Regions from separate parts of the Homo sapiens genome. Here regions 1 and 3 are each reported to be linked to region 2. The links are microRNA targets in miRTarBase. Many come from high-throughput screens and were not tested one by one. Region 2 holds a microRNA gene; each other region holds the end of a gene's coding sequence. Distances are between the middles of the regions.

Evidence for each region. The annotated mature microRNA hsa-miR-5681b reads AGGUAUUGCCACCCUUUCUAGU and lies in region 2 at 2,412-2,433, opposite strand. An mRNA with a match to its seed (bases 2 to 7 or 8) in the 3' UTR can be bound and repressed. Matches are read on the target gene's strand: a 7mer-m8 pairs with bases 2 to 8, a 7mer-A1 pairs with bases 2 to 7 and ends in A, and an 8mer does both.
Region 1: the mRNA of PGM2L1 is a reported target of hsa-miR-5681b. Seed matches in the 3' UTR shown: 7mer-A1 at 2,581-2,587.
Region 3: the mRNA of SLC25A32 is a reported target of hsa-miR-5681b. Seed matches in the 3' UTR shown: 8mer at 908-915.

What each region holds. Positions count from the first base shown.
Region 1 is chr11:74,333,377-74,337,622 of GRCh38, reverse strand. It overlaps PGM2L1 (phosphoglucomutase 2 like 1), which reads left to right. Exons shown (of 14, transcript NM_173582.6): 14 at 869-4,246. The coding sequence ends at 971. The region is part of intron 2 of LOC112268078 (a long non-coding RNA gene); the gene reads right to left. Among named protein-coding and RNA genes, the nearest start is that of P4HA3, 24 kb to the right of the region's middle.
Region 2 is chr8:74,546,173-74,550,418 of GRCh38, forward strand. It overlaps MIR5681B (microRNA 5681b), which reads right to left and starts at 2,437; the gene lies at 2,378-2,437. It overlaps MIR5681A (microRNA 5681a), which reads left to right and starts at 2,371; the gene lies at 2,371-2,445.
Region 3 is chr8:103,396,725-103,400,938 of GRCh38, reverse strand. SLC25A32 (solute carrier family 25 member 32) reads left to right here. Exons shown (of 7, transcript NM_030780.5): 7 at 393-2,301. The coding sequence ends at 528. Among named protein-coding and RNA genes, the nearest start is that of SLC25A32, 16 kb to the left of the region's middle.

The sequences.
Region 1 (4,246 bases), not on the chromosome of region 2:
TGACTAAGTGAATTTCATAAACATATTCAAAGGCTACTTAAATGTATTAAAAGTACTGTCTCCTATAATATTGTAATTGCTCAATATATATTTGGGAAGGAGATTTTTTAGAATTGCTTTCAGAGTCCAACCAAGCTATACTATTTTGTATTTCCCCAAATCTTTGCATTTAAGGATAGATTTCATTTCCTTTGGGGGGGATAAAGAGCCCCCGAAGTCATTCAAAGTAGAATCTAAAGTAAACCAAATTGGGTAATGCTACATCTGGTTGAAAATGAAGGAAGATTATTAAAGTAATAAGAACTGATTTGTTGTGTAGCTTTTAAAATGACTGTAAAGGCAGTTTAAAAGAGGCTTGCCTCGAAATGTTCTGGGCAACGGCAGCACCTCAGTGATGACTTTCAAGGGCCTTCTTTTAAGTGCACATTTATTTTTTTAAACATCACGTTATTTTAGTCACACCTCCTTCTGCTACCTGAAAGATATATCATTCCATAACATCTGTACTGAATATTTTTCAAAGTATTTCAGGAAGCCATTTTCTCCTAACACCTGGTATTTGTGTTCAAAGCCATTAGAACCTCATTCTCCTGACCCAGGAGAATTCTTTAGATACACCATCACTCCTCTGTTTATCATGTGCCAAGGAACTCCTATTAATGCAGTTCACCTTCAGTTTGTGATAGCAGTGTTTTCTTTGTGTGTAATTTTTTTTTTTGGTCTTGTTTTGTTTTAACCAAGTGAATTTCTCTTTTGTTTACCAATTGTTTAATGACTCCATCAGGACCTCTTAAAAAATCACACTAATTTAAATAAATTTTAAGCCTATGAAAATAAATAATTCCAAAACTCTTCATCTTTTCCTCAGTGACACTGCTTTACTGGAGGAAGAACTGAAGAAACTCATTGATGCTCTGATAGAGAATTTTCTTCAGCCTAGTAAGAATGGACTGATCTGGCGTTCTGTTTAGGGGTACACCAATATGTCATGACACTGTGTGGGCATATGGAACAGAGCAACCGAGAACTGCATACATTGAACCTTGTGTTAGCATTCTCTCTCTATCTCATCTGGCCGAGTATCTTTTTCCTTTTATTTTCTTTCTTTTTGGTCAACTGGCTAGACTAAACAAAGTATAAGTTTGAAATGAAATGGTCTAGAGGGAAATGATTCAAATTTTTTCATAATTCAAACAAAAGTTATTACACTAAAAGTATTATAGTAACGTATTGTCCTTCCGTTAACAGAAACATCACAATTCAAAAGTGAGTTTTCTTATTATAGTGTGATTAAGCCTAGTTCTGTATCTCGTAATTGTGTATAGCATGGTAAAAGAAAAAAAAAAAGACAGGTAAATGTTATATAATTGTAGGGTTAGTTAAGGAAATTAGTCCATAAAATTGGCAAGAAAATGGTACTTTCCTTGATTGTTATGAAAAAGTGTCATTGTGACATCACAGGTATTAATTTACAAATTAGAGTATTTGAAATAGGATATTTAGCATTTCTGTAGTTTAGAACAGATGTTACAGTGTGTGGTTTTGGCATGTCTGTTTCAGGTGCCCTTGGTGCAGTATAAATTTACTGTATGTATTTAAAATTCTGATGTTTACTGAACATAAAACAATAGTGGCAACACTCCTATTGGCTTTGTTCTTATCAAATTTCTCAGTGCCTTCTCAGGGTCTGGTGTGAACAGAAAAAACAGTGTTCCTGCATTTACCATAATTTAATCAGTCAATTTGCAGATAGCTAAGGAAAATCTTCCAAAATCTGTAGGTGCTTCCTCTATATCAAGTGAGTTTGCTGATTTTAAAATCTTAGGAATATAAATAAAGATCTTAATAAAAGCAAGCTTAATGTAGTTAAGGATCTTCATATTAGAATTGTGTCATTTATCAAACCTTTTATTACAGAAAAAAATCTGAACTGAGAAAGGAGCTCTGAATTTATTTGACAGTCTAACTTTTGAATTACATTTTTGTAAGTAGATTTATTCTTTTATTTTATGAAGTAATGTTAATTTTACTAAGAATAAAACATCCAAATTTTAAGTATTATGAAATACTAAAACTACATGTTTTAAAACAGAGGTCCAGTTTATTCTAACATCTTGCTGACTTCTGTAGAATTTCTGATTGCATGACTATTATTTATCTTCTTTTAGTGTAGAAAATAATTTTTTACAAAAAGTCACTTTTGGGCTGGGCGCAGTGGCTCACGCCTGTAATCCCAGCACTTTGGGAGGCTGAGGCAGGTGGATCACAATGTCAGGAGTTTGAGACTAGCCTGGCCAATATGGTGAAACCCTGTCTCTACTAAAAATACAAAAATTAGCCGGGTGTGGTGGTGGGCACCTGTAGTCCCAGCTACTCGGGAGGCTGAGGCAGGAGAATTGCTTGAACCTAGGAGGCTGAGATTGCAGTGAGCCGAAATCACGCCACTACACTCCAGCCTGGGCAACAGAGGGAGACTCCATCTCAAAAAAAAAAAAAGTCACTTTTGGCTAATCATGCAGTCTTCTGAAAAGGTTTAATAGAGAAATGCTGTTTAGGCTGGGCTTGGTGGCTCACATCTGTAATACCAGCGCTTTGGGAGGCTGAGGCAGGAGGATTGCTTGAGGCCAGGAGTTTAAGTTACAGAACTATGATCACACTGCCGCACTGAAGCCTGGATGACAGAGTGAGACCTTATCTCAAAAAAAAAAAAAAAAAGAGAGAGAGAGAGAAAAAGAAATGCTGTGTTTAATCTTCTTAAAATGTATCTTGTCCTACATAGTTCTCAGAATACATATGGGGTATAGTTAGGAGATAACAATAACAAGACCTAAACAAATTGCTTATGGGAGATAGCACTGTAATTAGAGAATTTATTTCATATAAAATAATAATATAAAGTTTGAACTGATTAGAATGTTCCTTAAATCATGGTTTCGTTTGTTGCAGCTGTCAGCTAACATTTGGTTGAGCTCATATAATCCAAACCTAATTGTCCAACTATTGTATTGCCACTATTGTTAATTTGTTCCTTCCTTACTTTCTTATTGTTGGATCTTATATGACTGTATGACTGTAGATAATAGACAGCTAGCTAAATGTAGAGCACCATTTTTCTCAATGAGTTTGTTTTCAAAGGCTTTGCACTGGAGAAGATATGTGTAGAATTTTTGTTTTATTTTTAAAATGTGTAAAACATCTTTTGTTTTATATGCTTTTAAGAATGTAGATTGTAATTTAGGAAATGGCATATATTCTGCAAAGTGGTATAATGTTGTATATATGAAAAACAGGTATATTTGGTTTAGTTCTGTGTTTCAGTGACTGATAAACAAAAATGAAGCTAAAATGAATCAACGGCTCATTCATAGTTACTAAAGCCATGTCATGACTGTCATTCTATTATGAAGAAAACAGTTTTATTTGAGTGCTTTAATATAATGCAACATTTAAGTCATCTTAAGGTGAAAAGTTATTGAAGTGTTCTTCTCTCAAGTTAACAAAATTTTACAAATGTTCCTGAAGTGTATCGATTGAGGGAATTATTTTATTCTAGCCTGTCATGAGTCTGTCTGAGCATGATACTTAACATGAACTTGATGTAGTAGGTGCACATTTGCCTAACAGGATAAATTCAGTGATAGCCCAAGCTGGTCAGGAGAGACAGAAGTGCTGGCTAGGAGGTCTCAGCCTCGGGCACTACAATGTTTATCTTTTTCTTTTTGAACAATATTGTGAAAATGATTGCATTCTCATTGAGCATGAAAGTCAAAACTGGAATTTTCTAAAGCTTTGGAGAAAAGGAGAGAATTAGTAGGGCAAGATCAAAGCATACATTGGAAATAAACAGTAGAAATAAGCAAACAATATAAAGAGACACGGGAAATGCTTCTCGTGAAGGGCAAATGTAACACCATAACAGTAGGGAATAAACTGTGTCCCACCTGTTTACTTGTGTTTATTTGTTGTTATGATGAGTATGCACCTACCATTTTCCTTTATTGTGATCACTAAAATGAGGCCAAGGTTTAGGAGGTGAGAAAAAGTATCCCTTTTACGGATTCAGTTCCTGCTAGGATGTTGTATCAGAATCATGTGAGAACTCAGGAAGAGGTAGAGCAGAAATAAAAAGGAAGAAAATGTAGATTAGAAAATAAGACTTCTGAGAAAAAGTTCAAGGAATAAAGATTGTTTGACTCTGGAGAGGAGAAAGCTGTTGAGATAGTTTGCTAAGTTTGCTAATAAAGCT
Region 2 (4,246 bases):
TTTACTGGTTTGAAATCAACCTTGCACACCAGCTTCTTATAAAAAAGACAATGAAACATAAGGAGAGGGAGATCATGGCTGCATTGGCTAAAGTGGATACTAAGTGTCTACTCATTTAGGGCATTGGGTATACTTATAACTGATAAACGAATCTGTGTTTTACATTTCCTAATTGTCTTTGTATGCACTTTTGTGCCAGATTATTATCTAACAAATTATACTTGTTTCCTCTTTTGTTGCCAAGTAACACATCAAGGTCTAAATAATACCTCAGGTTTTACACACTGTACATGCTCCAGGGAGACCAGAAGGCTCACCTTGCACAAGGTGGTTAGCAGATGGGTGAAGCTGGTTAATGCTTCTCCCATTTAGTATCTACAAAAGGGAGCCTCAGTGACTCTGTGGGGTGTGGGGTCATGGGGAAAATAAGAGTACTTTATTCTTCTTGTCCCTTTTCTCACCAGAAGTGATTCTGTGCATAGTGTTTGCAAATAACATGAATCTAGTAGAAAAATAAGAACCATCCAAGAAACAGCTAGAATACAAAAAATAAATATCAATGAAGCCAAACTAAAATATGAAGGAAACCAAATTGAATATGCTGAAGTGCCCCCAAAAAGACATTTTTTAAAAAGCCTTTGCAATTACAGAAGGTTACTGAAAATAACAAAAGGAAATAAGATGTTTAAAAAGTAACGGTGAGCTGGAGGCAAAAGGGCAGTGAATTGGTGAGAAATTTTCCACTGCCCAGTGAAGTGCCTGAATCCAGCAGAACAAATGAGCCCAAATTTGCCGTGCTAATTAAATTATATGGGAGGCTTGGTGGTTACATCTTCCAGCTACCAAGTCCTGTCTGTTTGGACCAAGAATTCTCAAACCAGACTGAAAATCAGAATCACCTGTGTGCCTGGTCACACCCCAGAACAATTAAATGGAAGTTCCTGGGGTCTTGGGGATGAGATGAACATCAGTACTTTTTAAAGCTCCTAGGTGATTGCAGGGTGCAGCTGAAGCTATGAATCACTGACTTAGAGGGACCCAGCTGCCCTGGAAATATTGGCCTTTCAGCTGAAGAATAACTACAGATGTTTGTGGCAGACCATTTCCTCAAGGCAGTTTACTGAGCCCCATTGACTGTTCCCAGCAGTCACAATTGGGTTCTGTGGCTCATAGCCCATTGGTAGAATGTGTACAGCAGATGTTTGAATGACATTAACAAATGGAAGCCTCCAAATCTTTCCTTGTTTAACAAGTAACAGCAGGTCCTTGTTTAAATAGTGATCATTAGTGATCGACTTTAATCCTTCGATTATAAATCTCCCATTTCTTCTTCTCTTCTATAAACTAGCTGACCTTTGTGTGCACATTGTGGATGTGTGGATGGCAGCAAACTGGAATTTGGACTAATTGAGTTGTCAATCAGATTTCTGTGCACTCCATATCACGTAGTTAGTAAGACTGAAATTATGGAAGGTGGTTGATTATTCTAGACATCTGAAGGATTGTTCTGAGCTCAATCAATTTCTTCACCAGCTGTTCTCAGGGCCAAAATGCTGAAAACAGTGGATACCATTTGGGATATGGAAAGGCCAAAGTCAAATCCAACTTGGACTCGGCAAAATAGAAATAGTCCTTTTCCTCATGTACTTTTAAAGTTTAGTCACATTTTCACGATTATAAACTGTTACTTTGGGCAAAGGATTGTTTCCAAGAAGCCAATGAATTGCACATATACAAACAGGCTGTGTTTCGGATCCATTTGTAGGAAACATCTTCTCAGCCCTCTGCCTCTTATAACCCCTGTGGCTCCTTATTAATGCACCTGCAGGAGAGGCACACACTATGTCACTCAGCCCTGGCTGCACCCTCAGGCAGGTGGTGTGTGGGTGCTTTAGCAGCTCTTTGAAGAATGTGATGCAGAACCATGAGCTAATGAGGAGTGCTAGGCACTATCCACCTGCAACTGGAGCACAGTATACTGCTCAGCAAATGTCCACATCTAGCAAAGCGGCTGCCCTTTGTCCACACTCCAATTTAGACAGAAGGCAAATGAAAAAGGACACACACAAATTTTAGTTTTCATTCTCCTTGGAAACATTTCAAAAAACTAAATAAACAACTGCCTCCTCCTGTCCTCTACCTCCAGGCTCTTTGGGAGCAATCCCTTAAGCAATTGACGGTTCTTTGGGAGCAGAAATAAAGAGAAAGTGAAAATTCTGGCTTCCTTTTTGAACTACCTTAATCTGTGAGAGAAAAAAAAAAAACCCTAAGTGATATGATAGATGCAACAAGTCTATGTTTATCGTGATTTATTGTTCACAAAGGGCTTTATATAGATGATCTCATATATTCCTTACAACTTCCTTGTGAAGTTTTTGAAGAGTATTGCCACCCTTTCTAGTCCCTATTAGACTAGAAAGGGTGGCAATACCTCTTCCAAAAACTGAGACTTGTTGATATTAAGTGAGTTGCCTCAGCAGTCAATGGCACTTTAAAATGTGTTTTACCTATTTTGTAGGATTTTTCACATGTTGTTTTTAACAATGGGAAGGGGATAGCCACTAGAGATACCAATATACACTATTCTGAGCCAAAGAAGCCAAGTTAAAACATGCCTTCATGGCACTTGAATTCTTTATAAAGTAATTTTTGAAGTTGAATTGAGACTTCCTGTTTAGAAGCTTGATTATAAACTCTTGGCTAGTTCTCTGACTTGCACACTTGTGTTCTGCTATTCCCTGGTCCTGAGGCCAGCCTCAGTCCCCCAGGGTTTTCTATTTATAGACCTCTTTCCTCTTTACAATAAACCACTTATTACTTTGGGTCAACTTTCAACCAAACAAGTCTCATTCATATAGGGGTCCTAAGTGGCTTCATCCTCTTAAACAAAGGAAAACCAAGATGGAAACAAGACGGGGAGCATTACATTGACTTGTGAGCAGGTAGTGACCAATAACTAGTGGGTTTTCCCAAAAACACAAAACCAAGCAGATCAAGGTGAAAGGGGTGGGGAAGTGGTGCTGACAGTGGAGGAGAGGGTCTGAAATGATTTTCTTGCTTGTCTCCAAGCTCTCAAGATTTGCAGGTACAAGAGCTCATCCAGGGACCAAGTGCCATCTGTTCATTAGAGACCATGCACGCACCATGGGCCTTAGGAAGAAGAAAAGTCCACTGCAAAGGGATTCTAGAAAAACATAGGTATCGGGTCTTATATGCCATCTGGAAAATGCATAGTTTCCATGACTGTGGAAGTAAGAGGGTATCTCACAGGTCAAGACTGTCCAGGATGCTTCAGGGTTTGCTTGTAGTAAAAGTAATTTTTTTTTTTTTTGACGTGGACTCTTGCTCTGTCACCCAGGCTGGAGTGCAGTGGTGCAATCTTGGCTCACTGCAACCGCTGCCTCCCGGGTTTAAGCAATTCTCCTGCCTCAGACTCCCAAGTAGCTGGGACTACAGGTGTGCACCACCACGCCTGGCTAATATTTTGTATTTTTAATAGAGATGGGGTTCACCATGTTAGCCAGGATGGTCTCCATCTCCTGACCTCGTGATCTGCCCACCTTGGCCTCCCAAAGTGCTGGGATTACAGGCGTGAGCCATTGCACCTGGCCTAAAGTAATTTTTTTTAAAAGTTATTTGTTTTAAAACATTTTGTATTAATTACATTTATCGCCATGCTTCTGGAAAAAGGGTGAAAAAACACTTTGCACATTATCTGGGAAATTATATACAGTGTATTGCTGGAAGTAATGGGCTAAGGATCTATAATACAATATTTTTAGTAATTATGATAAAAGGAGAGAATATACACATTATAAGAAACAATACTTTTGGTATCATCTTTATGATAATGGTATTAGAATTTATTGTGAGTTCTGGGGATTCCTATATCTTTTATTTATTATAGTACTTTGAAGTTTTCTTCTAATTCTCTATACCAACTTCCAATTTAAATAAGAGAGAGACAACTAGACACTAGAACTAGGAGAGTTACAATCATTTAGTCAAAACTACAATTTTTATGAGAACTGAGGGTCAGGGAAGTTACATGATTTGCCCAACATCACACATCTTGTTAGAGGAAGACCTGGAACTAAAACTGAGGAAAAGATGCAGTGGATTCTTTTTCCTTTTTTGTGCATAAATTTCTTGAATCTTTTCAAATACGTTGCATGGAAACCACTCAGCAAGCAGGTAAGAAAGGGTGTTTGAAGTACAGGATTCTTTCAGAATGCTACAGCCACTC
Region 3 (4,214 bases), 29 Mb from region 2:
ATTAAGGAAATAAAGTTTTATATTTGTATGTGCTGTATTTAATGTTGGCTAGCATTTATCCAAGCTATGAGGTTTTTTAATGCCTACATTAGGTCAATTAAAACTCCTGCTTGTACATACATTTAAAAGCATTTGAAAGATAGCTAATTGAAAGCACTTTTTAGTTCAGTTTTGAGGTGTCCCTACCCTCTCTTACTCAGTCCATCCATAAAAGGAATGTAAATCCCTACAGATGGCTTATAAACTACATTACTTTAGGACATTGAAAACATGAACTTAAATCAGAGTAAGGTTTGACTGCTGCTTGCTCCATGCCTTGTGTCAGTTAGAACTTCCGTGTTTTCAAGCTAGCTCTATACAAAATTAAGCATTATCTATTTTTCCCTCTAAAGGAAAGAAGGCGTCGGTGGATTTTACAAGGGAATTGCTCCTAATTTGATTAGAGTGACTCCAGCCTGCTGTATTACCTTTGTGGTATATGAAAACGTCTCACATTTTTTACTTGACCTTAGAGAAAAGAGAAAGTAAGCTCAAAGAGGACAATTCCAGTATATCTGCCCAAGGCAGCAACAAGCTCTTTTGTGTTTAAGGCATAAAAGAAGAATTCTGCATAGAAACATGGCTCATATTCGAAATTGCTCTATAGTCATTAGAAGCCAGAGAACTGCTAAGTCTCCTGCAATGTTTTTCTTGCTTTTTGCCTTCCCCATATATATGGAACTTGGCTACCTCTGCCTGAAATGGCTGCCATCAACACAATGTTAAAACTGACACGAAGGATAGAGTTTCACAGATTTCTACGTTTTATTGGTGGAAGCTGATTTGCAACATTTGCTAAATGGATTAGATGAATGTACTTCTTTTTGTGAGCTTACTTGCCTGGATTGCTTTAAAATTAACCTTTGTGCAATACCAAGAAAATAGCTCTTTAAAAGAATGTCTTTGTATGTCTCAAGGTAAATTAAGGATTTACTGAATAAGGTGTTGACCAAATCCAGACCATTTTATTTTATTTTTTTATTTATTTATTTTTTGAGATGGAGTCTTGCTTTGTCGCCCAGGCTGGAGTGCAGTGGCGTGATCTCAGCTCACTGCAACCTCCACCTCCCGGGTTCACGCCATTCTCCTGCCTCAGCCTCCTGAGTAGCTGGGACTACAGGCACCTGCCACCACGCCTGGCTAACTTTTTTTTATATTTTGAGTAGAAATGGGGTTTCACCATGTTAGCCAGGATGGTCTCAATCTCCTGACCTTGTGATCCGCCTGCCTTGGCCTCCCAAAGTGCTGGGATTACAGGCGTGAGCCACTGCGCCTGGCCAGACCATTTTAGAATTGGGAAATTTTAGTGAGAAAAAATGCACTGTAAATATGCTTTAGTTTTAATTCAGTTGGGATGCACTACCTAGCGAAAATTGAGAAACTATATACTTCTCAGAGAAATATCTGACATCTATTGTCATTCCATTGCTATTTTTTTTCCCCAGAGACTTCCATAATTTAAAATAAAATCCTAGATCCAGTTCTTGTTTTTTGGCATAAATACTTAATCTATTTTAAATTTATAAAATCTGAGCTTCTAGGATCCAGCTGTGTCAACCTTTATTTAGCATATATAACTATAAATCACTTATTACAGATGCTAAATAGATCACCTTTTACAGATGCTGAAATGTTTGGGATATGTTTGTTGACAAGGTAAATGGAAATGAGAAACTTTATACTTCAGTTTTCAGATATATGGATCTAGATCCCAAATAAATGATTAATCTTCATTGGTTTCTCAAATTCAGGTTGAAATACAAATTAATAGCCTTTATTGATTTTACTTTTATGAGTCATTGTAGACATCTATAAATATAAAAGGGCCTGTACCCAAAGGATGCCAGAATACTAGTATTTTTATTTATCGTAAACATCCACGAGTGCTGTTGCACTACCATCTATTTGTTGTAAATAAAAGTGTTGTTTTCAAAGCCATCTTTAAATAGTTCTTTAAAAATAGGTCTTTTTTTTATATTTTGGAAAAGGCATTGTTTTTAAAGTAAAGATAAAATGGTAAGTACCTAATTGTATTTACTGTAATATCTTATAACATGCAGATGAATGCTTTATAAGTTAAATATGATGTATTTTTTCATACTTCTGGATTATACTATAATTCATATGAAATCTTGATATTAGTCCCCACACGGAAAAAGTGAACTGCAGTTGATATTTGGTGTTTAAGATAGCACCATTGTTTAAATACCGCCTATGTACTCCCAAATGAATAAAACATAATTCTTGTCCTCTGAGAGCATACAAGCTTGTGTGATAGATAAATATGCATTAAATAATTACAGCTATAGATTAAGAACTCGTAAGGAATATCTCACAAAGCCTGGTAAGAGTTCTGACAGAAGAGAACTCAATTTCAGTCATTCAACAACAAATAGTCACTCAACTCCTGCTCTTTGGCAGGTACGTCACCAAGCACTGAGGATATAGCAATAAATAAGCCAGACAATATTCCTGCCCTCAGGGAATTTTCATCTTGGTGTAAGTGACAGAAAAGGAAATATATGCATAATGTAATTTCAGGTATTTAATGCTATAAATAAAACTACAGCAGAACGGGGGAATAGTGTTGCTATCTTAGGTAGTATGGTTGGGGTCAGGAAAGGTCTCTGAGATAGTATTTGGAACATTTTGAAAGAAGTGAGGAAGCGAGCCACAGTGAGAGGAAACACATTCTAGGCAGAGAGGACAGGAAGTAAAAAGGGCCTGAGGGAGGAATTAAGTTGGCTAGAGGGGATGGGTGAGGAGAGAGAGGAGGTTGGAGAAGTGGCCACTGCAGTATGGTGGGAAAGAGCTCAGGTGGGACAGCCAGGCCCTCTGGCTTCAAAATTCAGCTTTCCCATTTTCTGTTTGACCTTAGGCAGATCACTTCAGCCCTCTTTGTCTTAGGTTTCCTGATCTGTAAAATGGTGTCTTAGATCACTTCCTCTGTAACAATGCCGGAGATGGGGATTCTTGGGCAAGTGATTGAGGGAGCACTTTCAGGAGAAATCTGTAATGGAGTAAAGCAAGCAGGGTAAGGCCGGGGAAGAAGAGTTTCAGGAGTAGTGCAGCCTCACCCTGACTCATAGGGCACTCTGCTGAATGAATTGGGCCCAGCGTTGTCCTGCCCAGAGTTGAAGGGGCTGAGCCATTAGGTTCCCACATCAGGCTGTCACGGACCACTGGCTACAGGGAGAAAGGATGGAGGAGTGACTGTTACCTCTCCTCAGCCAAGGGCAATCCTCCAGATAAGGGTGGAGGTGTCAGTTCTTACCAGCCAACACCTACAGCAGCTAGGGTATGGGTGCACCAGTCCTGTGAAAGGGGTCTGGGTAAGTCACCAACAGCATCTACTGCAAATGAGGATATTAAAAGTACATAGCCGTAGGATTATTGAGAGGATTAAATTAATGAATTTTTAAAAGGCGCTTAGTGTGCCTGGGCCAATAAATGTTAGCAGAGACCAGGCCTTGTAGGCCATGGTGAAGAGTTTTGATTGAGAGATCATTCTGGTGATTGTATAGAGGAAACAGGAGAAAGGCAAAAAAGCAGGAATACTAGTTGGGAAGCTTTTACAAATGTCGAGTCATGAGCAGGTGGCAGCTTGGACCTGGTCGATGGAGTCTGAAGTGGTGATTTATAGCTTGGGGGAACTAGAGCAGGGTTCATGGAGGGGGAAACATTTAAGCTGGGCATTGAATGAAGATTCCAGAGGGAACCATGGAAAAAGGAAAGCACAGGTGACCTGCCTTGAACAGTGAGTTGTCAATTAATGTGATAATAAAAGGAAAAGGAAGAGAAAGATGGAAGATTGAGACCAGGACATGAGAACTCTCAGAGCCTGACAACCTATGTGGGCTTTATTGGGTAAAAGAGAAGTAAGAGTAATTAGAACAGAGAGACATGGCTACTGCTTAGGGGTGACAGAGGAAGACTGGTCAGACAGGAGGAACAAATTCAAAACAGAAGGTGTTAGTCAACCAATAGATATTTCAGTAGGATGAAGATTGATGCCACTGATAAAGCAGATTTGAATTATAGAGGCTGATGACACATTGCAAGCAACTTAGGGGGTGGGGTGACTGTAAGTATTTATTTCACTATGGGCTCTTCTTTCCTGGATTTTGGCAGATGAAAGGAAGGTAAAGAACTTTAGCTTGTAAAGGTACTGCAGT